Regions from separate parts of the Homo sapiens genome. Here regions 1, 2, 3, 4 and 5 are each reported to be linked to region 6. Evidence: microRNA targets listed by miRTarBase, many of them from high-throughput screens and not tested one by one. Region 6 holds a microRNA gene; each other region holds the end of a gene's coding sequence. Distances are between the middles of the regions.
What was found. The annotated mature microRNA hsa-miR-3918 reads ACAGGGCCGCAGAUGGAGACU and lies in region 6 at 1,431-1,451, opposite strand. An mRNA with a match to its seed (bases 2 to 7 or 8) in the 3' UTR can be bound and repressed. Matches are read on the target gene's strand: a 7mer-m8 pairs with bases 2 to 8, a 7mer-A1 pairs with bases 2 to 7 and ends in A, and an 8mer does both.

Region 1: the mRNA of TMEM134 is a reported target of hsa-miR-3918. Seed matches in the 3' UTR shown: 7mer-m8 at 474-480, 7mer-A1 at 706-712, 7mer-m8 at 855-861, 7mer-m8 at 933-939, 7mer-A1 at 954-960, 7mer-m8 at 1,399-1,405 and 1 more.
Region 2: the mRNA of SAMD4B is a reported target of hsa-miR-3918. Seed matches in the 3' UTR shown: 7mer-m8 at 3,076-3,082 and 7mer-m8 at 2,133-2,139.
Region 3: the mRNA of ABT1 is a reported target of hsa-miR-3918. Seed matches in the 3' UTR shown: 7mer-m8 at 3,294-3,300.
Region 4: miRTarBase lists LAPTM5 as a target of hsa-miR-3918. Seed matches in the 3' UTR shown: 7mer-A1 at 1,783-1,789.
Region 5: miRTarBase lists SEC16A as a target of hsa-miR-3918. Seed matches in the 3' UTR shown: 7mer-A1 at 657-663.

Annotation. Positions count from the first base shown.
Region 1 is chr11:67,460,854-67,464,938 of GRCh38, reverse strand. TMEM134 (transmembrane protein 134) reads left to right here. Exons shown (of 7, transcript NM_025124.4): 6 at 83-136; 7 at 243-3,229. The coding sequence ends at 325. CABP4 (calcium binding protein 4) reads right to left here. Exons shown (of 6, transcript NM_145200.5): 6 at 3,187-4,085. Among named protein-coding and RNA genes, the nearest start is that of TMEM134, 6.4 kb to the left of the region's middle.
Region 2 is chr19:39,383,107-39,387,191 of GRCh38, reverse strand. It overlaps SAMD4B (sterile alpha motif domain containing 4B), which reads right to left. Exons shown (of 14, transcript NM_001384574.2): 13 at 3,901-3,984; 14 at 1,492-3,693. The coding sequence ends at 3,665. It overlaps PAF1 (PAF1 component of Paf1/RNA polymerase II complex), which reads left to right. Exons shown (of 14, transcript NM_019088.4): 12 at 393-498; 13 at 620-710; 14 at 789-1,563. The coding sequence ends at 1,201. Among named protein-coding and RNA genes, the nearest start is that of PAF1, 6.0 kb to the left of the region's middle.
Region 3 is chr6:26,597,888-26,601,972 of GRCh38, reverse strand. It overlaps ABT1 (activator of basal transcription 1), which reads right to left. Exons shown (of 3, transcript NM_013375.4): 2 at 3,863-4,059; 3 at 1,234-3,708. The coding sequence ends at 3,328. Among named protein-coding and RNA genes, the nearest start is that of ABT1, 3.0 kb to the right of the region's middle.
Region 4 is chr1:30,730,505-30,734,589 of GRCh38, reverse strand. LAPTM5 (lysosomal protein transmembrane 5) reads left to right here. Exons shown (of 8, transcript NM_006762.3): 8 at 673-2,121. The coding sequence ends at 762. Among named protein-coding and RNA genes, the nearest start is that of MIR4420, 6.7 kb to the left of the region's middle. RefSeq lists enhancers at 765-1,266, 1,307-1,812, 1,813-2,318, 3,988-4,085.
Region 5 is chr9:136,438,297-136,442,381 of GRCh38, reverse strand. SEC16A (SEC16 homolog A, endoplasmic reticulum export factor) reads left to right here. Exons shown (of 32, transcript NM_014866.2): 32 at 559-2,277. The coding sequence ends at 627. It overlaps INPP5E (inositol polyphosphate-5-phosphatase E), which reads left to right and starts at 2,537. Exons shown (of 10, transcript NM_019892.6): 1 at 2,537-3,774. The coding sequence starts at 2,963. RefSeq lists silencers at 2,379-2,578, 2,629-2,808, 2,869-3,358 and enhancers at 2,431-3,064, 3,065-3,699, 3,649-3,758, 3,700-4,085.
Region 6 is chr6:158,763,285-158,767,369 of GRCh38, forward strand. It overlaps MIR3918 (microRNA 3918), which reads right to left and starts at 1,469; the gene lies at 1,377-1,469. It overlaps SYTL3 (synaptotagmin like 3), which reads left to right. Exons shown (of 18, transcript NM_001242394.2): 17 at 20-225; 18 at 1,211-1,587. The coding sequence ends at 1,320. It overlaps EZR (ezrin), which reads right to left. Exons shown (of 14, transcript NM_001111077.2): 13 at 3,977-4,085; 14 at 2,464-3,794. The coding sequence ends at 3,630.

The DNA of each region.
Region 1 (4,085 bases), not on the chromosome of region 6:
TTGCCCGGGCAGTCAGCGGCAGCCCGGAAGGCCTCGAAGCCTCCGCCCCCTCGCCCTGACCGGGCTCTGGTCCCTCCCGCAGGTGTCTCCAGCGCCATCTTCTTCGTGCCGGGCTTCCTGTTGTTGGTGCCTGGAGGTGCGAGCGGGCACCGGGGCGGAAGGGGCGGGGGCTGTGGGGCGGCACTGGGGGCGGTGTTGCGGGGAGGGGCGGGGCTTCTGCGCTGACAGGCCCCGCCCCGCAGTCTATCACGTGATCTTCATCTACTGCGCGGTCAAGGGCCACCGGGGCTTCCAGTTCTTCTACCTGCCCTACTTCGAGAAGTGATCGCGGCGCAGCGTGGACCCCTTGCGCCCATGGGGGCGCCCCTCTTGCCCTGTTCCGTTCCCCTCATCTCAAGGGAAGAGGCCCTCCAGGACCCTCGAAACCCCAGCCCCTAGGGAGTTTGCTCAGGAAGTTCGGGGCATGCAGGCCTGGCCCTGGGAAAGCCGCCCGTCGCCTGCTCTGTGCCTTAACTTATTCTCGGGCCGTGCGGCTGCTAGGTTGCTGTTATTTTGTGCTAATAAAAGAGTAATTAATTCCACCAGAGGCAATTGCTCTCCTCCTGTCCTGCCACTGCTAGCCCAGCCCACCAGCCTGACCACAGCCCCCCTCCCAAGGACTGACCCTGACGCTGAAGGGCTTCGAGCACCACCGAACGCGTGGCAGCCCTGATGCTGAGGCTTGCCCAAGGGCACGGGGCATGTTAGGGGCAGAGCTGGGCGTAGGACTCCTGCCTTGCCAGCCAGGAGCCGGCCGGAACAGCCTGCCCCACCCCCAGCCCTTGGATGACTCAACCAGCCCGTCTCTGTCTGGTGGCCCTGGCCGAGGGCACGCAGAGATGACGCAGGCCTGGGACCTGGAGGCTGGTATCCTAGTTCCAGCCTGGCTCTGGGGCCCTGGGCTGCCACAGCCAGCCCTGAATGTGGGCCATGTCAAGGCAATGGCCCAGCCCCCTCCACCCACTGCCCTCCTTCCCAGTCCCAGAGGTTGGGAGAACCTGGGGGCAGAGGGCATAGGAAGCCGCGCCTGACAGACACCCTCAGTGGTCAAAGACTTAGAAATGCAGAACGTTAGAAACAAACCATCTCAGAATTTTGGAACATCAGCATTTCAGAATCTTACGAAACAAGAAACAGAATCTTTGAGAAACCTGAAATCTGAGATCATAGTAGCTACCAGTTATCAATTTGTTGAAAGACCCCAGGATGGCCGGGCACGGTGGCTCAAGCCTGTAATCCTAGCACTTTGAGAGGCCAAGGTGGGAGGATCGCTTGAGCCCAGGAGTTCGCGACCAACCTGGACAACATGGCGAGAACCCATCTCTATTTAAAAAAAAAAAAAGAAAAGAAAATATACTAGGCCCTGCGCTAAGCACTGAACACGGGTTATATCTTGTAATCTTCACTACCTCCGTCCCATTTTACAGATAAGGACTGACTCACCCAAGGACAGCCAGCAGGTGGTAGGTAGAATTAGGAACGTAGCCCAGGGCTCTTCCCATGACACTGTCGGGGAGGGAGAAGGAAACCGGCACTGAGCTGGTCTCCCCTACCGGCCAACCAAGAGGCTGGCTGAGTGAGCAAGGGTTGGGAGGCCCTGTTGGTGCACCTGCCCGTACTGTCTATCTCCCCCACCAAAACACGGGTCCCACAAACCACTGTCTGCAGCACCCAACACAGCGGGGCCTTCAGGATTCTGAGTTAGAGGAATGGACACCCAGACTCTTGCTCTCGCTCCCACCTTTCCAGGCCCCGCAGACTTCCCACCCTCATCCCCCATTCAAGGCACTTAGGGGGCACCCATTGGATGCAGGAACTCCTAAACCAGTGGTCCCCCAACTAGCTATGGTAAAGGACCAGTTTTCATTTCTAATCCATCACGGTCCAGTACTTTCATAAGAAGAACTAGCCGGGTGCCGTGCCTCATGCCTGTAATCCCAGCACTTTGAGAGGCCACGGTGGGAGGATCACTTGAGCCCAGGAGTTCGAGACCAACCTGGGAAACATGGGAAAACCCCATCTCTACAAAAAATACAAAAACTTAGCCAGGCATGGTGGGGCGCCTGTAGTCCCACCCACTTGCGAGGCTGGAGTGGGAGGATCACGGAGCCTGGGAGGCTGCAGTGGAGTCATGATTGCACCACTGCACTCCAGCCTGGAAGACAGACTGAGACCTATTTAAAAAATAAATAAATAAATAACATAAAAATTTTAAAAACTAGAAAAATGAAATAAAAAACATACAGAGGCTGGGCGTGGTGGCTCATGCCTGCAATCCCAGCACTTTGGGAGGCCGAGGCAGGTGAATCATGAGGTCAGGAGTTCGAGACCAGCCTGGCCAACAGGGTGAAATCCCATTTCTATTAAAAATACAAAAAAATTACCGGGCATGGTGGTGCGCACCTGTAATCCCAGCTACTCAGGAGGCTGAGGCAGGAGAATCGCTTGAACCCGGGAGGCAGAGGTTGCAGTGAGCCGAGATCACGCCACTACACTCCAGCCTGAGCGACAGAGCGAGACTCTGTCTCCAAAAAAAAAAAAAATACAGAATACAAGTCCACAGTTTATCAGATTAATTAGACATAAAATTACATTTCAATAAATATAATCAGAACAAACATAGGAAAAAGGAAAAATGACAAAAACCATTGAATATGAACAAACAGGCAATTAACACAGAATCGCAGCTAACAACTTTTTACTCCTTGTTTTTTTTTTTTTTGTTTTTTTTTTGAGACGAGTCTCACTGTCTCCCAGGCTGGAGTGCAGTGGCCCGATCTCGGCTCACTGCATCCTCTGCCTCCCGGTTTAAGCGATTCTCATGCCTCAGCCTTCTCAGTAGCTGCGACTACAGGCACATGCCACCATGCCCAGCTAATCTTTGTATTTTTAGTAGAGACAGGGTTTCACTATGTTGGCCAGGCTGGTCTCCAACCCCTGAGCCACCTCGCCCGACTTCATTCTACAGTCTTAACAGAAAGCAATTTCAGAAGTGGTGATTCCCATCATTAGAAGTCTGCGTTAGGAATCAGCAAGGTATAGTCCACAGAGTGGTTTTTATATTTTGTAATGGTTGGAGAAAAGTCAAAGAATAATAAGATTTTATGACATAAAATTATATAAAATTCAAATTTCCATGTCAATAAATGAAGTTTTACTGTTATTTATTAAAATTTCTGATATAGCCACACTCATTTGTTGACTTGACTTTGCACTACAAACTTCAACAGCAGAGTTGCGTGAGCAGCTGCAACAGAGACCAAAGCCTCAAAGCTGAAAATAATTATTCTCCAGCCCTTTACAGAAAGTTTCCCCACCCTTAGTCTACATGAACACTTTGACAGAACACCGTGAATCTGACTTTTCTCTCCAGTTATTTATAAGATTTGCTTTTTATATTCTGTGGTTTCAATGGGATATATCCAGATATATATTTATTTTTATTTACCCTACTCTGACTTCAGTTTGTTCCTTCAATCTGGGGAGTTGAAGTCTGTGGAAGTCTTTATGGAAAATTTTCAGCCATTATCTCTTTGGTTATTGCTTCTTGTTCATTCTCTATGTATGTCCTCCGTCTGAGACTCCCAAGGACTTATCTGTCTTTTTCTTTGAGACAGGGTCTCTTGCTCTGTCACCAAGGCTGGAGTGCAGTGGCACGATCACTGCAGCCTCCAACTCCTGGGCTCAAATGATCCTCTCACCTCAGCCTCCTGAATAGCTGGAACTACAAGCATGAGCCACTACACCCAGCTTATTTTTTTATTATTTTTTTTAAGAGGCAGGGTCTTGCTGTTAGGCTGGTCTCAAACTCCTGGCCTCAAGTGATCCTCCTGCCTTAGCCTCCCAAAATGCTGGGATTACAGGCATAAGCCACCACACCCAGTCTTCCAGTGACCTTTTTTTTTTTTTTTTTCCGAGACGGAGTCTCGCTCTGTAGCCCAGGCTGGAGTGCAGTGGTGCAATCTCGGCTCACTGCAAGCTCCGCCTCCTGGGTTCACGCCATTCTCTTGCCTCAGCCTCCCTAGTAGCTGGGACTACAGGCGCCC
Region 2 (4,085 bases), not on the chromosome of region 6:
CTAGGAGCAATAGGCTACACCATTACAGCCTAGGTATGTAGTAGGCTATACTATGTACGTTTGTGTAAGAGTACTGTATGATGTTCACATGATGTATATCTCAGAATGTGTCCCTGTTAAATGGCCCATGCCCGTATTTATGTAAATACACCGTATAACACACACACACAGTGTAGGGCAACCAAACTGGTGCCATGGGAGCCATCCTTCCTTTCCCCTGCCCTCAATACCTTGAGCTTAGCTGCCCTTATTCAATCTGTATTTATTCCCATTTACTCTAAGTATTGATGGGGAACCAAGTCAGACCAGACCCCTCACTGGGGGGCGGGGAAGTGGGAGGTGTGTCTTTAACTGCATCTTCCACTTCTCTCTCCCAAATTCACCCCCTGCAGGGTCCGCCTTAGTAAGCGCCGGGCCAAGGCTGGGGTTCAGTCAGGCACCAACGCCCTGCTTGTGGTCAAACATCGGGACATGAATGAGAAGGAACTGGAAGCTCAGGTAACAAGCACCACTGGCTCAGGGCACCCATGGCAGGGAGGGTGGTGGTTGTAGGTGAGGAGGGGGACAAAAACCCAGCAGAACACCCTCCTTCCCCTCATTCCAATCTTGCTGCTTCCAGGAGGCACGGAAGGCCCAGCTAGAAAACCACGAACCGGAGGAGGAAGAGGAAGAGGAGATGGAGACAGAAGAGAAAGAAGCTGGGGGCTCAGGTAAATCTGGACAGGCCAGACTCTGGGAGCCCTGGGAGGGTGGAAAAGTGGGTTTCATCTCTCTCCACTCCCTTCCAGATGAGGAGCAGGAGAAGGGCAGCAGCAGTGAGAAGGAGGGCAGTGAAGATGAGCACTCGGGCAGCGAGAGTGAACGGGAGGAAGGTGACAGGGACGAGGCCAGTGACAAGAGTGGCAGTGGTGAGGACGAGAGCAGCGAGGATGAGGCCCGGGCTGCCCGTGACAAAGAGGAGATCTTTGGCAGTGATGCTGATTCTGAGGACGATGCCGACTCTGATGATGAGGACAGAGGACAGGCCCAAGGTGGCAGTGACAATGATTCAGACAGCGGCAGCAATGGGGGTGGCCAGCGGAGCCGGAGCCACAGCCGCAGCGCCAGTCCCTTCCCCAGTGGCAGCGAGCACTCGGCCCAGGAGGATGGCAGTGAAGCTGCAGCTTCTGATTCCAGTGAAGCTGATAGTGACAGTGACTGAGTCCCAGGGCATTCAGGGCTGGTTCAGACACCATTATTGTGAGCAGCAAAGCACTTTTCTAGTGGTCTGTTTGTGAGCCTTTCACTTGTTTGTTCCCCACCCCCAAACCTTTGCTGTTAATAAAGTCAACTTCTCTTTACTTCCCCTCCCAGCCCCTATGATGTCATTCAGCCCAGCACATACCTCCCGCAACCCCCAGGTGCTCAAGGATCTTGGCTTGAGGCTTAGAAACACAGGCCAGAGGCAGGGCCAATGGTTTCCCACAAAATGTAGCACAACGAAGGTCAGAATTCGTTTTTTTTGTTTGTTTTTTTTTTTTCCAAAATAAGCCCAGACCATTAAACAAGTGAAACTCCAACAAATAAGTCTTCTCCAACAGCGAGAAAAACTGTACAGTTACTCAAAGCTGATTCTGCCAGTGGGGCCGGGGACAGAAGTGGGTAGGGAGGGTGAAATCATGGAGGAGGGCCTGGGGAGGGGGCTGGAGCGGGAGAGGGTCAGGGTCCTGCCCATCAGAGTGGGGCCGCCTGCGTCCTGCACACTCTGCTGTCAGGTGGGGTGGGGGGCAGCTCTTGCCTCCCTGTGTGTGTGAGACGGTGTCCCTCACCACCTCCCAGTGCCAGGCACAGTCAGCTCACCCTGATGGAGAGTGAACAAGACAGGACAGGCTGGGGAGAGGGGAGGGTCCCATGAGAGGGACACCCTGCTGATTCCAAACGAGGTGGCCCATCCATCCCACTTCCTGCAGCTAGTGGGAGGGGGACTGGAGAAGCCCTGGGAGATTGAGGGGATGAGCAAAGGCACAGAAACATGGAGGGCCGGGGTGGGGGACTTGCATAGGTTGATGAGTGTGCAAGAGGTACATAAATAAACCTGACACCCCACCCAGCCCGGCACTGGGAGAGGAAGTGGGGACCCAGAGCCAGGTTCCCAGGGCCACCCTACCCCCTGGCTTCTTCCCCCTCCCTGGGCTCAGAGCAGAGGGAAGTCCACAGACCAGGAGGGCGGGGGCAAGAAGGTCTGGGGAATGGGGTGATAGTGCAGGGAGGGTGGTGGTTTTAAAATTTTTTTTTTTTTTGTTTTTTTTGTTTTTTTCCCAACATTTTGTATCTTTAATAACATACACAATGGTTACCAGCCATATTCATAACAAAAGTTATTCATAAAATGTATCTAAAAATAACATTTTTTTTCCTTTTCGGTGTGAAAAGCTTGAGAATGTCCCAGTTGGGAAGGTGGGTTGAGGGGGAGGAGGGCGTTGAAGAGGGAGACCCTGGCTTCCCCGCAGTCTGAACCCCCAAATCCCCTCCCTCCACCTGGGCCCCAACACAACCCCTCATTAGGAATAGGGACCAGACAGTCTGTCGGACTCTGGGGCTGGGACGAATCTCTGGGTTATGATATAGTGTTCCACTTAAGTGAGGTCATGACATAATGGGGGAAGGAAAAAGGCTGAAAGAAAAGGGAGGGGCTTAGGGAAAAACCCAAAAACCAAACAATCCCCTTTCCCTTATTCCTGACTCCCAAGTCTCACCAACCAGACCTGGGAGCGGAGAAGGGTGTGTGTTCGTGGGGAAGGGGACGTTAAGGCAACAGACTTCCTGACCTCACTGGCTACCCTGGCTGCCCACCTCCAACCTCTTCATCCGGGTAGCCAGGGCTGGAGGAAAATGGGTTAGAGCTTGAGGGTCTGGAGGAGGGGGCTCTGCCCTCTCCCCTCATAAAGTTCAGGCTCTCCCTGCCACTGTCTTGGCTGAGAGAGACCTGGGGATTCTAAAAATGAGAGGAAATGATCAGAGAAAAACCGTTAAGAACTATATAAATATGTATCTTAAATAGGCCTAAGAAATTAATCATAGAGAACCTCTGGTGAACAGGGCCAGGGGAGGTGAGAGAGAGGAAGGTGGCTCCTGTCCTTGCAGAATGTGGGGAATGGTGAAGGGGAAGCAGGGAGAGGAGAGAGAGCTTCCTCTCCTTGCTCCCCTTCCTTCTCCCCAGCTCCTCTCAATAACATTCTGGAGGGCAGGTTCTCTGCCCTGCGCGTCACCCCAAATGTCAAATGTTTCTGAGCAGGCTCCACAAGGTAGTGGTCAGTTTGTCTCTGGGGAGTCTGCTCCCTTGGGGAGAGGCAGGTGGTCAGCGGTCTGGAGGAGGCAGGGGTGGGATGGGACCAGGTGGGGATGAGGAAGGAAAGGAGAGAGGCAGGCAGTCTGGCCAGTCCCTGCCCCCTTTATCCTGGCTGCCCCCAACTCCCCGGGCCTCAGCAGAGATCCCTCGACGGGCCTGGGAGTGAGCAAGGCATGTGCCAATGTTAAACAAAAGTTAAGAGGGTAAGAGAGTAGAAAAATATTAGAATATATAGCTGAGCCAGCCCACCCTCTCGCTGTCGCGGAGAAGCCCGTTGGGGGTTGGCCCCCGCCCGCCGCCCAGGGAGCCTATGGGTGCGCTGGGCTGTGGGTCCCGTCAGATGGTGGAGGTTTTGTCTGTCCCATCTGTGGTAAGAAAGGGAGGAAGGGAGGAAGATCAGGAGCTGGAGGGAGGCCCAAGAAAAGGCACTCAGGTAGCCTGTCATCCCAGTCAGGCCCTCCCTGGAGTCTGGCCTCCCCTGGGGACCCCTCAGGATGACTCTGAGTTGCTCAGTTCAGAGGCAGAGACGCTGGGTAGGTGGGAGCTGGGTCAGGGAAAGAGGAAATGCTCACCACCCAAGGCGTGTTCTGTCATGCTCAGACACAGAGACTCCAGAGTGGGATTGATCTCCAGGTCAGGCCCAGGAACCGGGCAGTCTGGGTGGGAGAGAGGAGAATGGGGGTGGTAAGGACCAACTGGACTCAGGTGAAGACAGCTGGGATGACAAAGGATGCTGGTATGGGAAGGGAGCAAGAGA
Region 3 (4,085 bases), 130 Mb from region 6:
ATTACACCCGGCTAATTTTTGTATTTTTAGTAGAGACAGGGTTTCACCGTGTTGCCCAGGCTGGTCTCGAACTCCTGACCTCAAGTGATCCACTAGGCTTGGCCTCCCAAAGTGTTGGGATTACAGGCGTCAGCCACCACACCCGGCCAATTTTCATTTTCTTTAATATTCTGTCAGGTATTGATTTCAAGATGGGAGCCGAGCACCGTGGCTGTAATCTCAGCACTTTGGGAGGCCAAGGTGGGTGGATCGCTTGAGAACGGGAGTTCGAGAGCAGCCTGGGCAACACAGTGAGACCTCATCTCTACAAAAAATATTTTAAAAATTAGCTGGGCGTGATGGTGCATGCCTGCGGTCCCAGCTACTCAGGAAACTGAGGTGGGAGGATTGCTTGAGCCCAGAAGATGGAGGCTACAGTGAGACAGGATCATGCCACTACACTCCAGCCTGGGTGACAAAGTGAGACCCTGTCTCAAAAAATAAAAGGGGGGTGGGCAGGGACCAGCAGATCTAATACTGGATCTTAAGCAATTCACTAAAATTCACATTAAGCCTCCTGGGAACTGAGCATGTCCCTAGACTTCCACCAAAGGATTTTCCCCTCATAATTCTACTGTAATATAACAAGATAAATGCAGGGAGAAAGGTTTTATAAGGAATCACAAAAAAAAAGGAATTTGAGAGTAGCTGTAAATACGACTTTTGAACATTTTTAGGGCAGGGCGTGGTGGCTCATGCCTGTAATCCCAGTACTTTGGGAGGCTGAGGCGGGAGGATCGCTTGAGCCCAGGAGCTCAAGGCCAGCCTGAGCAACATAGAGAGACCCTGTCTCTGAAAAAAAAAAAGAGAGAGAAAGCTTTTAGGCACCCAGACATACCCTATTAAAGCCCTCTTACTCTACCAGGAGTCCCACCTCAACTTATTTGGAAAGAAATCAGCCCACTCCATTGCCATCAAATGCAGAGTCCCAGCTTCTCAGTCAGGAGTGAAACTAAGTTGAATCAGAGTATACACTACAACCACAGGATCATGACTGAGAATTATTACTCAGTTTGCTACTCTTGGTGCTAGATAAAATAAATCCACTCATATTGGCAGGTACACTTCATTCTCTAGTCTATAACATGTGCATTTCTCATGAATTTCCTGTAATAAGCATTCACCATATGCACACTGGGAAAAGCTGGGGAAAAGGTGAGGAACAAAGGATAAAATATTAAGAGGCAAATTGAGTCATCTCTCTGAGCTCAGTTTTAATGGGGGGATAACAATATTATATAGTTGTGGATTAAATGAGTTACTTCATATAAAAAAACAAGTGCTGTTTAAATAGAAACAAAATTGTGGATGTAAAAAATTATTTTCCTACACTCAATGGGCTTAAAGTCAAGATGAAAGTTCCTAGGATATTTTCTTCCACCCATTTATTCTCATTCCTCACTCCACCTGTGACTTACTTAGCTTGCCTGGCCGCAGGTGTGAGCTCTTTGTACAGAACTGTTTTGGAGATGGACCCTGAAATACCAGCCCTTGAACATACTGTTATCTAACGCTGTCCACCGTGGGAATGCAATTTATTTCTTCATTCAAGAAAGTCTTAAATAAAACCCCAGTATGTCTACTGTACTTTCTAAGCTGTTAGCAACTAGAGGGAAAGTTTCTTCTTCACCTTGGTATCTCTTTATCTAGCAGAAGTAGCAATGGGCACTTGGAATTCTGAATAAATGAATATGCCAGCCTGTCAAATTCTGATTCTGGATTTTTCTGTTTCACTTTAAGACATCAATGATCTGAGGAAACAATTCACATGAAACAAACCCACAAGAATTAAAAACAGAAACAAGACGAAAGTTTCTAAATGGAAACGTAGTTTGTGTGCCAAGTATAAGAGGTATGTGGGTTGTGAGAAATGTTATACCAGCTTTACCGTATGGTCCTTTTTATTCTCCCCAGTAAAGTGCACCTGTCAAGATCATAATGTGATTAGGGTATTTTACAGCCAAAGTAGACAAATCCACTCTACCCTATAAAACACAGATCATCACATTGACAGATGAAAAACAAAAACAAACAGCACAAGCAAACAGAAATTATAATCATACTCTATCACTTCATGCAACAGCCTGGAAAATGATCAGAATTTTGGTCTACGTGAGACTGTGTAGACTGTTTATTGTGACACCTAGGTTTTCAGTTCCTTTTAGTGGCTTACACTGATTCTTTGAAGCCTACAGGGCTGCTTTGCCTCAGCCCCACCATATGTAAGTGCACCTGAGGTGCACTGGTTCTCTACTAGGCTTTGCCCACCTTTACAATGGTTCCAACTCAACACTCCACCCAGGAAGCATTCTTTGTAATTGTGGGAGCACTCCACACTCTTTCAGACTTATTATTCTCCCAGTTTACTTTGTAGGAATGATCTGGAAAACTTGGTGAGGACTGACTCACCACTGAAGACTGTGATCATCAATCAGGTTCCCATTGAGAGGACTCTATGACCTGCCATGGCTCCCATTCCACCCTTTATATGCATCTACCACGATGCCTATCTTATACTAGTGGCCTGTAAAACTCTTAATACTAAGATGTGTTATTACCTATTGTCACTGTTTCCTCAAACAATGGCTTAGAAAATGCTGACTTAAGATAACTGATTGATAAACTGGGCTAAGATATTAGACAAAAATTAAATAGAAAAAAAAATCCAGGTTAAACAGTAAGGTGGGTGGCAGGGGGAGGGGGGCTCTAAGATCAGGATATGAAGGTGAAGGGAACACAAGATGAAAGTTGGAACTTGTCCAATGACCTCCCCACCAACAAAAATAAAAAGGCACATAAAAATATTTTTATTTTCTATAAATACATTAGGAAATGTATTTCTTCCCAACCCAGTCCACCCCATTAACTCAATTTTTTCTACATAAAAAAGATGCTAATACCACCCTCACCTGTGACTGCTAAACAGAGAAAGATTGCCTGGACTAGGCATTATCCTCCTAGTTGGAAATAAAGGCCCTTTCTGGGGGCAGGAAGTGGGATTTTCAGGGGACCCTACAGACGTAGGCAGCCAAGAGTCAAACAAAACAAGCATATGCAATAGTCATAATTATGCTAGTATGACAGTATGAATTAGGTGACTCAGCCAGGCACATACAGGAGTTCGGAGTGGGGACAGTGGAAGCCCACAAAACTCCATGTTTGGGCCATCAGTAGACACTTGGTCTGAGAAACACAGTAAAATGTCTGCCCGGGTAGTCACGATCATTCTAGTATGAGGTAGACAGGAAGCAGAGCAGGGCCAGGAAATGGAAGGGGCCACCCAGGCCCTCAGGAGTCCCTGACAAGGGAAGGTCCCTCCATGCTCTCTGAGGGTGGCGGGGCTCCAAAGATCCTGGCCAGGAGCCCTTTGTTGGAGCGGGCCTTGTCCTGGGCAGTTGCCAGGCGAGCCCGTTCACGTCCCCCTGGCCGTGCTGCTTTACGGGCCCTCAGTTCCTGCTCAGTAGGACGCTGGGCAAATGTCCAGGAGCCATCTGGGCGAGCAGGGTCCCCATCGGCCGCAAGAAAGCGTTGTCCCCGTTCCACACTTTGAAGATAGAAGTCGGTCTCACGCTTGGCTTGAGCAACCTCCGCTCTCAAGCGCTGCCTGCGCACCTGGCGCTCAAAGGCGAGGTGCTCGCTGAGGTGGGACCAGGTGAAACGGTGCAAGTACTGTGGGCAGAAAAGAAGAAAAGATCAGGATAGTGCAGATTAGGGAGAAAGATGAGACAAGGGGACAAGGCCAATGAGAGGCCATGGGGATACTTGGGCCAGAGTTGGGGAGAAGGGAGGGTGAGAGGTGTGGCAGAAAGATCTATCTTCTCACCTTGAGGTTCCAAAGATCATAACGGAAGGGGCTGCGCCTGCGGGCACCCATAGGCGTGTTGTGTAGACTGGCCGCCACGCGCTTGGCTATGCGCTTGTCACGGAACTCCACCCATCCCTCGGTGTAGTCCTTGGTGTAGGACCGCTTTTTTCCTCCGGCAGCTGCTGCTGCCTTCTTCTTGCGTCTCACGAACCGGTCTGCGCGCCAAAGACAAAGACCCGTC
Region 4 (4,085 bases), not on the chromosome of region 6:
GAAACCCAACTCAATCTGACTTCAGGAATTTACTAGCTCACAGAACTTAGCAGCCAAATGTAGGTCTGGCTTGGGCCTGGCTGAGTCCTGACATCAGGATATGATCTCGTCCTCTCCAACTCTTGACTCTACTTTCCTTGATGTTGGCTTCATTTTCCGGAAGCCCATCCCTTGTGGTGGCAAAAAGGCTGCCAAAACCCCTAGGCAGATATCCCACCCTCTCAGAAATCCCAACAGAAAAAGAAGGTCCCAGGAGTATGTCTGATTGGACCAACTTGGGCCACGTGCCTATCCCCAAACCAAGGACTATAGCCAGGGGGATGGAATTCTACTTTGAGTGGCCAAGTCCAGCCACCTCGCTGGATCTGAGGGATGGGACCAGTTCTTCTGAAGGTATATGGACTGAGAATGTTTTCCCAAGGAAAATGGTGCACTGTTTTCAAAATAAGGGGGACTTGATGCTGAATAGGCAAAGGCAAATATGTCCACTACAGGGCTGGGAACTGCACCTATCTCATGCAGGCAATGTCTAGCACATAGCAAATATCCAAGACCTGCCAGTCATTATCATCATCATTTTGCCAGAGGTGGGGGTTTGGGTCCCATGACCCCAGGTTGGAATTGCAGGTCATTCTTGACCATACTCAGCCCTCATCTCTCTGTCTCTCCCAGGTGGTCCTGCCGTCCTACGAGGAAGCCCTGTCTTTGCCATCGAAGACCCCAGAGGGGGGCCCAGCACCACCCCCATACTCAGAGGTGTGACCCTCGCCAGGCCCCAGCCCCAGTGCTGGGAGGGGTGGAGCTGCCTCATAATCTGCTTTTTTGCTTTGGTGGCCCCTGTGGCCTGGGTGGGCCCTCCCGCCCCTCCCTGGCAGGACAATCTGCTTGTGTCTCCCTCGCTGGCCTGCTCCTCCTGCAGGGCCTGTGAGCTGCTCACAACTGGGTCAACGCTTTAGGCTGAGTCACTCCTCGGGTCTCTCCATAATTCAGCCCAACAATGCTTGGTTTATTTCAATCAGCTCTGACACTTGTTTAGACGATTGGCCATTCTAAAGTTGGTGAGTTTGTCAAGCAACTATCGACTTGATCAGTTCAGCCAAGCAACTGACAAATCAAAAACCCACTTGTCAGTTCAGTAAAATAATTTGGTCAAACAACAGTCTATTGCATTGATTTATAAATAGTTGTCAGTTCACATAGCAATTTAATCAAGTAATCATTAATTAGTTACCCCCTATATATAAATATATGTAATCAATTTCTTCAAATAGCTTGCTTACATGATAATCAATTAGCCAACCATGAGTCATTTAGAATAGTGATAAATAGAATACACAGAATAGTGATGAAATTCAATTTAAAAAATCACGTTAGCCTCCAAACCATTTAATTCAAATGAACCCATCAACTGGATGCCAACTCTGGCGAATGTAGGACCTCTGAGTGGCTGTATAATTGTTAATTCAAATGAAATTCATTTAAACAGTTGACAAACTGTCATTCAACAATTAGCTCCAGGAAATAACAGTTATTTCATCATAAAACAGTCCCTTCAAACACACAATTGTTCTGCTGAAGAGTTGTCATCAACAATCCAATGCTCACCTATTCAGTTGCTCTGTGGTCAGTGTGGCTGCATAACAGTGGATTCCATGAAAGGAGTCATTTTAGTGATGAGCTGCCAGTCCATTCCCAGGCCAGGCTGTCGCTGGCCATCCATTCAGTCGATTCAGTCATAGGCGAATCTGTTCTGCCCGAGGCTTGTGGTCAAGCAAAAATTCAGCCCTGAAATCAGGCACATCTGTTCGTTGGACTAAACCCACAGGTTAGTTCAGTCAAAGCAGGCAACCCCCTTGTGGGCACTGACCCTGCCACTGGGGTCATGGCGGTTGTGGCAGCTGGGGAGGTTTGGCCCCAACAGCCCTCCTGTGCCTGCTTCCCTGTGTGTCGGGGTCCTCCAGGGAGCTGACCCAGAGGTGGAGGCCACGGAGGCAGGGTCTCTGGGGACTGTCGGGGGGTACAGAGGGAGAAGGCTCTGCAAGAGCTCCCTGGCAATACCCCCTTGTGTAATTGCTTTGTGTGCGACAGGGAGGAAGTTTCAATAAAGCAGCAACAAGCTTCTGTCTGGCTGATGTGTTTCTGGAAATACAGTGTAGGGAGGGTGGAGACCAGCCTTCTACCTCCATCACCCCAGGACTCACCCACACCCCCTACACCCACACCCCTCCACACACTCACACCCACCCCCACACACCCACAAATACACCCAAACACCCACACTCCCCCCACATACCCACACACTCACACCCTCCCCACACCCCTCCACACACTCACTCCCACCGCCTACACACCCACACACCCCCCATATACCCACACACTCACACCCCCCACACCCCTCCACACACGCCCACCCCCACACACCCATGTAAACACTCACACATACCTAGTTGCTCCATCCAGAAACTCCTCCCATGGGCCATGCTGAGCGAGGGGTGGTCCTGACCCAATGCTGTCTGATCATGAACCACAGCCCAAGATGATGCACCCTGATGTCTCCCTAATCAGGCGTGCACTCCACTCCCCTGGGGCTGGGTCCTGCTCTGGACACTGGGGAAGACCTCAACAGATGAGACTCGCCTCCAGTTCCCCCCAGTCTGCGGTAGGAGGGACAGATCTGCAAAAGGGCTGCCACGATAGGGAAAGCCTAGGGGACCTCAGACGTGGCCTGAGGGCCAGAGAAAGCCTCTTGGAGGCTGTCACCAAGTGGAGTCTGAAGGATGAGAAGGCAGCAGTAAGCAGAATGGGAAGGGTGCTCTAGGTCTAGGTAGCAGGACACGCAAAGACTCTATGGCATTGGGGAGAGGAGCTGGGGCGAGCTGCTCAGCGTGGCTGCAAGTGGGGAGGGGAGGGAGAAGAGGTCGGCCCGCTGTGGGGCTGGGTCAGGAAGAGTGTTTGCACACAGTGGGGCTCTTTAGGTGCAAGCTCACCCTGGCTAAGTTCAGCCAAGAAGGGAATTTACAGGAAGGACATGGTTGCAAGTAACAGAAGCCTTATGAGCCAAGTTTATTATGAGAAACCAGAAGGTGGTTCACGATGTTTCTTGGCTCTCATACAAATAAAAAATCCAGGGATTTTTGGCTTCAGGTATGGCAGGATCCAGGACTACAACTCTTTAATAATGTCTCTCTGTTTCTCCATCTCTTATCTTTTCTCCCCGGTGTGGCTGAGCTGTTGAGGACTTACCTGAAAGTAAAGTTAATAAAGAGACCAGGGCTGTTTGAATTGGGATCTGTCACCAATACCAAAAGAGCCCTCAGAGCCTTGAATGTCACACCGAGGAACATGGACTAATCCTGAGACAGGTGTCTTTGAAGGATTTTGGGCCAAGGAGTTACAAGGTTTGGGTTTTAGGAAGGAAGAGCCCAAATGCAGGGACCCCTACAAAGGCTGGGGAAGTCATCCTATGGGGCGGCAGGGACGGGGATGAGTTTGAGAGGCATTGTCAACCTTCTGGTGGTGTCAGTTTTTTTGTGGAATGGCAGATTTCTTCATGGATGTTATTTGCTCCTTATCAGACCCCCAAGCAGTTGGTGCAGTGTAATTCACAGAAATGGAAAGCGAGCTCCTGTTCACACTTGAGGGCAGAGGCCCAGAGACATCAAGTGACTTTCCTGAGGCCACACAGTGGTCAGAGATGAGACCAAGCACCTTTTTTTTCTACTCCGAGTGGAGGCTTTTAGACGGGCTGGGGCCCAGTCTGTGTCAGTTGTTGCTTCTTGCAAAGACCCATGGGAAGAGGGCCCGCTGAGAAGCCCCGGCAAGTGTGGATTGGGAGCAGAGGTCACGGGAGGAGAGACATTGGCCCAGCCTTGCATCCTATCACAAGGAGATTGAAGGGCCATGGCTGCGTGTGTCACAAGGACCAGGAGGCCCTGAACTTCCCGGCGCGACTCTCCCGTCCTTCCCGCCTTCCCCGACTCCCACCTCTGGCCTGGAGCCGAAGAACAGGCTGAGCTGTGTAGTGGGATTGTGCCCTGTGGCCAGGCAGCTGGGAGGGGGCCACCCGAGGGACAGGAAATAGCTGG
Region 5 (4,085 bases), not on the chromosome of region 6:
CTCCCAGGACCACTGCCCCCAAGCTGGCCCCTGGCTGTCACCTGCTTTTCAGCATCCAGACTAGTCGATTTTGGTATTGTCCTGCTCCCTTTACCATGTGGTTAGTGCCTTTACAAAAATTCCTTGGCTTTCCCCTCCATGAGGCTTTGCGAGGGAGCAAGAGTGGATGCCTGCATTGGCCAGCTGTCTGCAACTGAGGTCCCCGCGTCCCATGCAGTAGGCCAGGCCTGGCCACCACTTGTCCCTGGACTCTGGACAGCCAGGCTGGCTCTGCAGAGCAGCTCCAGGTCTCATGGCCCTGATGAAACCACGGCACCTCCTGGCCACCCTCACAGTAAACATTGATGGTTAAGGATACAGTGCTTTCAAGGGAGCCCAGGACTTGGCACTGACTTGTCGGTTTCCAGAGGCTTTTGGAAACAAAAACGAAGCCTTCAGCTTGTCAGCGCCAATGGCCCGTGTGGTTCATTATGTGGACCAGCCCCTGCCACGCTGCAGCCGAGCACTGCTCACCCTGGGGGCAGGCATGCAGAGGTCATGCTGTTGATTTCATTCCAGGCCTGCGCCACCTCCGGGAGCTCAAGGCTAGGGAGGATTGGCCAGAGGAAGCACCTGGTGCTGAACTAGGCTTGCCCTGCTGTGAACTTGCACTTGGAGCCCTGACGCTGCTGTTCTCCCCGAAGAACCCGACCGACCTCCGCGATCTCCGTCCCGCCCCCAGGGAGACACAGCAGTGACTCAGAGCTGGTCGCACACTGTGCCTCCCTCCTCACCGCCCATCGTAATGAATTATTTTGAAAATTAATTCCACCATCCTTTCAGATTCTGGATGGAAAGACTGAATCTTTGACTCAGAATTGTTTGCCGAAAAGAATGATGTGACTTTCTTAGTCATTTAGGATGATTTAAGGATATAGTATTCCTGGTCATTTAAGAATGTTCATTCATTGAAGCCGGAGCTGTCTCTGCCACAGGAGAGCCACATGGTCGGTAGTAACCAGGGCCTCTCCAAGCCCAGCTGTGAGTCACTGCCCAGTGAGTCCCGCGCTTCCTTTAAGGTGCTGGGAGCAAAGAGAGGGTGACTGAGGCAGACCCCAACCCCTGCTCTGCACCATCTGGGCCCTCGCCGTGTTTGAACCTGGCTGAATGAGTGGAGGGCGCTGTGTTCTCAATCAGCGCCTCCGAGGAGCCGTGGGGTTCCTTCGGCATTAGTTCACGGTTTTTGAGAGAGGCCTTAGTTACTGCAGTGAATTTCTTTCCTGTTGCAAAGACGCTTCCAGCCTCACTTTACTTTCTGTGGCCTGATGAGGACCATGGGTGATTTTGTGTACCCAAAGCGCTGGGGACTGCCCACCGTGTGGCCCAGTCACTGGGAAGGAGCCCCAGAGAGCCGGCTGTCTGACATGATGGCTCAGGGTGGTCATCCAGGTTGAAAACTGACCGTGTGATGTTTGATTTGGGCTTCATTTCGTGTGTAGGAGCACGGTTAGACTCACTGTTAAGGAAGCTGGATGCACTTCTCTAAAAGGCTGCACTTTCCGTGAGCACTTTTCGTGGTACAATCCACATGACCCACTTTCTCCCCTGGGGGACGTTGGTTCAGAGGTTGGTAGCACTTGGGGAGAGTATCTTAACACAGTTTCTTGACAGCAGCTCTGGAACTTAGTATTTCTGCCCCGAGTTTTGCCACACTGAGACTTTGAGTAGCTCCTGGTGGACTCAACCCTGTTCAACTCAGAGACGGGCCTCCTCTCACTGATGCAAAGCTTTAAGGCTTCTCTGACTGTTCTGAAACTCTTCGTATTCTTGTCAAGTCTAAAGAGACTGAAGAAAAGATTTAAATACTAATAAAAATCAGTAGATAATTTCTGTAGGTTCTGCTGGAGGAATACAAACTGTTTGGTGTTTTAAATTTAAGTGTAGAAATTGTAGAATGTGGAATTAGCACAGATCCTTCCTGGCTTTCTGTTTCACTTGATCATTTAGCCCAGACCACCCAGGATGTTTTCCAAAATGTTCCACAGGCGTGTCCCGCTGGATCCATTTGTCCTTGTCACTTGGAGAAAGGCCAGTCCCTGTGACGGGGCAGCCCTCTCTGTCCCTCGGTCAGCTCGTGTGAATCCTGGGACCTCTTCCGGTCGGCTCTGCCCGCTGTTCTGGGGTCGACTGCCACGACTTTTGATTCAAGAAGCTTCCTCCAGGCGGGAGCGGCTATTTTTCCTAAATGAGAATTGTTACATTGCAAATTGTTGAATAAAATATTTTGCGCTCCTTCAAGCACCTTCACCTGTGGTTCCCTTTGGTTTGCTGGAAGCGAGTGAGTGCAGGTGTCCGCAGGCCTCGGCGCTGTCCTGGACCGCACCCAGGTCCTCTCCGGGGACCTGCACCTGCCTCGCTGGGACCTGCCGGACTGCGGGGCTGCCGGGTTGGGAGGGGCGTGGGAGACCCGTCCGGGTCCGGTGCGGCGCAGTCCTCCGGCCGCCAGGGGCCGCTGTGGGCGGGGCCGGGGCGCGGGGCGGGGACCGGGCGCGGCCCCGCGGCGGCGGTTGCTGGGTCCCGGCCGGGCTGACTCCGCTTCTGGGCGGCCGGGCCTCCGCGAGTACCGGGTCGACTTCGGAGTCTGCGAGCCCAGCCAGGGGTGCCCGCTTCCCACCCCTCTCCCCGAGCGGCGTCCCCGTCGGGGTCGAACCTCCCCCGCGACAGGCGCCCAGCCGCCTGTTCCCCCAGGCCTTGCCTGCGGACCGCCCTGGGAACGGCGTCTGGGAGCCCCGAGGGGCTGGCGGGACTCGGGGCCCGGGCCATGCGGCAGCCGCCCCCGCCCCTCCGCGACCATCCCCGGCCCAAGCGGGAGCCGCAGCGGCGTTTCTGCTCCTCGCTGCGCCGGCGACCCCGGACCCGGCACCCGTGACCCCTCGCGCTGCCTGCGGCCTCGCGCCGAGGCCTGCCCCGGGAGAGACCGTCCATGCCGTCCAAGGCGGAGAATCTGCGGCCCTCCGAGCCGGCCCCGCAGCCGCCGGAAGGGAGGACGCTCCAAGGACAGCTTCCCGGCGCTCCGCCGGCCCAGCGCGCGGGGTCCCCACCCGATGCTCCGGGCTCCGAGAGCCCCGCGCTTGCCTGCAGCACTCCGGCCACGCCCAGCGGCGAGGACCCGCCAGCCCGAGCAGCACCCATCGCCCCGCGGCCCCCCGCCAGGCCTCGACTGGAGCGAGCCCTGTCCCTGGACGACAAGGGCTGGAGGAGGAGGCGTTTTCGAGGCAGCCAGGAGGACCTGGAAGCCCGGAATGGGACCAGTCCCTCCAGGGGCTCAGTGCAGAGCGAGGGCCCCGGGGCCCCCGCCCACAGCTGCTCCCCGCCCTGCCTGAGCACCTCCTTGCAGGAAATCCCCAAGTCCCGCGGGGTCCTGAGCAGTGAGAGAGGGAGCCCGTCCTCGGGGGGTAACCCTCTCTCTGGGGTGGCCAGCAGCTCCCCGAACCTCCCGCACAGAGACGCCGCCGTGGCGGGGAGCTCGCCCAGGCTGCCCAGCCTGCTGCCCCCGCGCCCACCGCCTGCCCTGAGCCTGGACATCGCCTCCGACTCCCTGAGGACAGCAAACAAGGTCGACTCGGATCTTGCAGACTACAAGCTCCGCGCGCAGCCGCTCCTGGTGCGGGCCCACAGCAGCCTGGGCCCCGGCCGGCCGCGGAGCCCCCTGGCCTGCGACGACTGTTCCCTTCGCTCGGCCAAATCCTCCTTCAGCCTCCTGGCGCCCATCCGCAGCAAGGACGTCCGCAGCAGGTAGGGAGGGCCTGGCGGGTGCAGCGCCCGCGCCGCCTTCGTTGTAGTGTTCAGGCTGCTGGAACCTCGTGAGACCGTTCCCATCAGCAGCGTTTAAGATGCCTAACCGGAAAGAACGAAGCGGGTCTCCCGCAGCCACCCCATCTCCCAGCCCCACCCCACAGCAGCGCCCTTCCCAGAACTTTTCCTGTGCGTTTCAGAACCATTCGTGGGCGTGACGTTGTGTTAAGGTAGACAGGATGGCATCCTGCATACAATTACGTATCTGGCGCTTTTTCTTGTTTAGTCTTGGGAAATGTCGTCAATGTATA
Region 6 (4,085 bases):
GTTTGTGTTCCCTCTTCAGCTGTCTCACTCTGCCAGACCAACAAAAACTGAGACTGAAGTCGCCAGTCCTGAGGAAGCAGGCTTGCCCCCAGTGGAAACACTCATTTGTCTTCAGTGGCGTAACCCCAGCTCAGCTGAGGCAGTCAAGCTTGGAGTTAACTGTCTGGGATCAGGCCCTCTTTGGAATGAACGACCGCTTGCTTGGAGGAACCAGACTTGGTTCAAGTAAGTCTGAGACATTGAGCCCAAACGTTTATACTTTGTGATTATCCTAATGGGTACCGTGCAAAGAAAATGCTTCCACCAGGGCAGTGACTTAACTGGTTTTGAAATTGCCTAGCCTGCCTTAATTGGAAATGCCTAAGTCTAGTTTTTACTCTACAGCTGAGCCATAATACAGCCAAGTATTTTGACAATTTAAATCAGATTTAGATCTGCTAAAGAAACAAAAATTATAGGCCTCCAAACGGGCTAGGTACAGTATTTGCTTTTGTTTCTGGCGTCAATCATAAAAGGATTATTTTCTTAAATGAAAATATCTTCTTAAACAAATGGCAATTCAGAAAGTACTTCATCAAAAGTGGTCAGAACAGCAGTGCTGTCCAGAGCCGCTCGGCAGGGCACCGCCGGCATGGTAGGTGGACAGCCCTCTGCTGTGAGGTTCTGTGCCTGGCACTGCTTCTGGCTGCCAGCAGTGTCCCTGACATGATGACAACCAAAAACACCTGCACACATCTCCAAGGACCTCCAACTGAGAACCAGTGACTGAAGAGAAATAAGCTTCACTGCTCCATTGCTTTTCAAAGATATTTTGTCCAAAGCATACTGTCTTCCTCTAAGAATCCCTTCCCATGGGCAAGCCCAGCCCCCAGTCTGAGACGGCCCCACCCAGCTAGCCATGCTGGTGTGCAACTATCCACTCCCTTGGTGAAGACCCAGCCCACCAAACCAGAGTCCTCGCCTCACTTTCAAACTACAGAACTCCAGGCTGTTAGAGCCTCGCAGAGCAGAGGATGCCTGCGTGAATCCCAGTCTCAACACCAGCTTTGTTGGGGTGGGAGTGGTGGTGGCGGCGTCTGTCATCAGTGGTTGGCCTTTTAATGTGGACTTGAGGTGAAAAACTTCTGGCTGGTCATCATTTTTAAAGGGATGAGAGGGGATGAAGTGGTGCCCTCCCCGACCATGGCTAAATTGTCTTCCTCTCTTACAGAGGGAGACACAGCTGTTGGCGGGGATGCATGCTCACTATCGAAGCTCCAGTGGCAGAAAGTCCTTTCCAGCCCCAATCTATGGACAGACATGACTCTTGTCCTGCACTGACATGAAGGCCTCAAGGTTCCAGGTTGCAGCAGGCGTGAGGCACTGTGCGTCTGCAGAGGGGCTACGAACCAGGTGCAGGGTCCCAGCTGGAGACCCCTTTGACCTTGAGCAGTCTCCATCTGCGGCCCTGTCCCATGGCTTAACCGCCTATTGGTATCTGTGTATATTTACGTTAAACACAATTATGTTACCTAAGCCTCTGGTGGGTTATCTCCTCTTTGAGATGTAGAAAATGGCCAGATTTTAATAAACGTTGTTACCCATGTCCTCCAGTGCTTATCAAATGAGGTAAAAGGCCGGCTGGTGGGCATGGTAACTCCCCCCTGTAATCCCAGCAACTTTGGGAGGCTGCAGTGGATGGCTTGAGCTCAGAAGTGTGAGATCAGCCCAGGCAACATAGATACCCTGTCTACAAAAAAACCAAAAAATTATCCAGGTGTGGTGGTACACACCTGTAGTCCCAGTTACTCAGGAGGCTGAACCGGGAGGATTGAGCCCAGGAGGTTGAGGCTGCAGTAAGCCCCGATCATGCAACTGTGCTCCAGCCTGGGCCAAAGTAAGACCCTGTCTCAAGGCGGGGGGGGGAGTCACAGCTTCGCTGTGAGAAGCACTTTATTTTTTGAGACGGAGTCTCCCCGTCACCAGGCTGGAGTGCAGTGGCACGATCTTGGCTTGCTGCAAGCTCCGCCTCCCGGGTTCTAGCAATTCTCCTGCCCCAGCCTCCCAAGTAGCTGGGATTATAGGTATGCACCACCACACCAGGCTAATTTTCGTATTTTTAGTAAAGATGGGGTTTCACCATGTTGGCCAGGATGGTCTCGATCTCCTGACCTCGTGATCCGACCACCTCGGCCTCCCAAAGTGCTGGGATTACAGGTGTGAGCCACTGTGCCCGGCTATGAGGAGCATTTTAGAGGAGCCTGATGAGTGTTGGAGCAGTCTTTCTCTCCTGTGGAAACCATCTCGAGGAGGTTAGGTGACCCATGGAGCACCATGTCTTGGGTTGGTCAGCTCCAACTTACCAGTGTACCCCCAGGGACACCACGGCCCCTCACGAAACCTGGCCAGAGGACAGCATAGAGCCCAGACGAGTCGGCGGTAGCCCTCCCACCCCACACACAAGCACACACCCGTGCTGCTTCGTGCCTTTGCAAAGCTTTTATTTCATGTCTGCGGCATGGAATCCACCTGCACATGGCATCTTAGCTGTGAAGGAGAAAGCAGTGCACGAGAAGGAATGAGTGGGCGGAACCAACGGCCTCCACAAGCTGCCTTCCAGCAGCCTGCCAAGGCCATGGCAGAGAGAGACTGCAAACAAACAAACACAAGCAAACAGAGTCTCTTCACAGCTGGAGTCTGAAAGCTCATAGTGGCATGTGTGAATCTGACAAAATTAAAAGTGTGCATAGTCCATTACATGCATAAAACACTAATAATAATCCTGTTTACACGTGACTGCAGCAGGCAGGTCCAGCTCCACCACTGCCCTCCTGCCACATCACATCAAGTGCCATGGTTTAGAGGGTTTTTCATATGTAATTCTTTTATTCTGTAAAAGGTAACAAAATATACAGAACAAAACTTTCCCTTTTTAAAACTAATGTTACAAATCTGTATTATCACTTGTATATAAATAGTATATAGCTGATCATTAATAAGGTGTATAAGTACAATGTATTCTAAAACTGTTAAGCAAAAAAAAAAAAAACAAAAAAAAAAATCCAAGTGTCCTCCTCCACCACTCACGCTGGTGATCACTGTGCTCTCTGCCAGCTGCGTGGAGTGACGGGAGGAGGGAATCACTGTGTGTGCGAGAGTGCTTCAGACTCAATTTCCAAAATAATTTTCACCCCTCTAAGCATGTAAATATACAAAGATGGATCCTTCATAGAAATTAAAAAATCAATTTGAGCTCATTTCGAATACAGAACAAGTATGGCACAGATGGAAGTCCTGCCACGTTTCCTTTAATGATGCTGACTCTTGTATCACACAGGCCAGCATGAAGTTTCTTACTCAGACTTTACAGGCATTTTCCGTAATTCAATCAGTCCTGCTCCCAGCACAACACAGGAGGTGATTCGAGAATAATCGCGAGAATCAGGCCTGCTTGGCACTATTACAACTGGGGAAAACAAACCAGGGCGCCTCCCTGGTTCCCAGCCCAGAATGTTTCTGTTGGGTAACTGCTTTCTAAAGGAACTGGGATCTGAGGGAGTTCCTAGACTTGGAGCACTAAAGACACAAGCGTGGCGGGGCTGGCAGCGCCCGCTATGAGCACCCCTCTGCCCTTGGTCCTGGCCTGGCTGTTACAGGGCCTCGAACTCGTCGATGCGCTGCTTGGTGTTGCCCTGCCGGATCTGCCGCAGCGTCTTGTACTTGTCCCGGCCTTGCCTCATGTTCTCGTTGTGGATGATGTCATTGTGGGTCCTCTTATTCTCATCTCGGGCCTGGGACAGCTCGCTGCTCAGCGTCTGTAACATTAAGCAGCATTGGTCTAGTCCCTTCCTCCCCATATGGCCCGGCCCGTCCCCTAGGAAAACAGGAAGGGCAAGAGGGGTGCTGGGTGGGGCTGGCTCACATCACTGCCCTCCCCAAGCCTGTCTGCTCCAAAAGCGAGGCAGGCTCCCTGGAGACAGAGCCCCTTGGGCCTCACCAGCAGCTGCCGCTGCACACGCTCGTTCTTCTCTGCCTCAGTGATGCGCTTCTCCTCATTGCGGTCATCCCGGATGCCCTCACTAGACAGCTCCGCGCTGTAGCCCGTG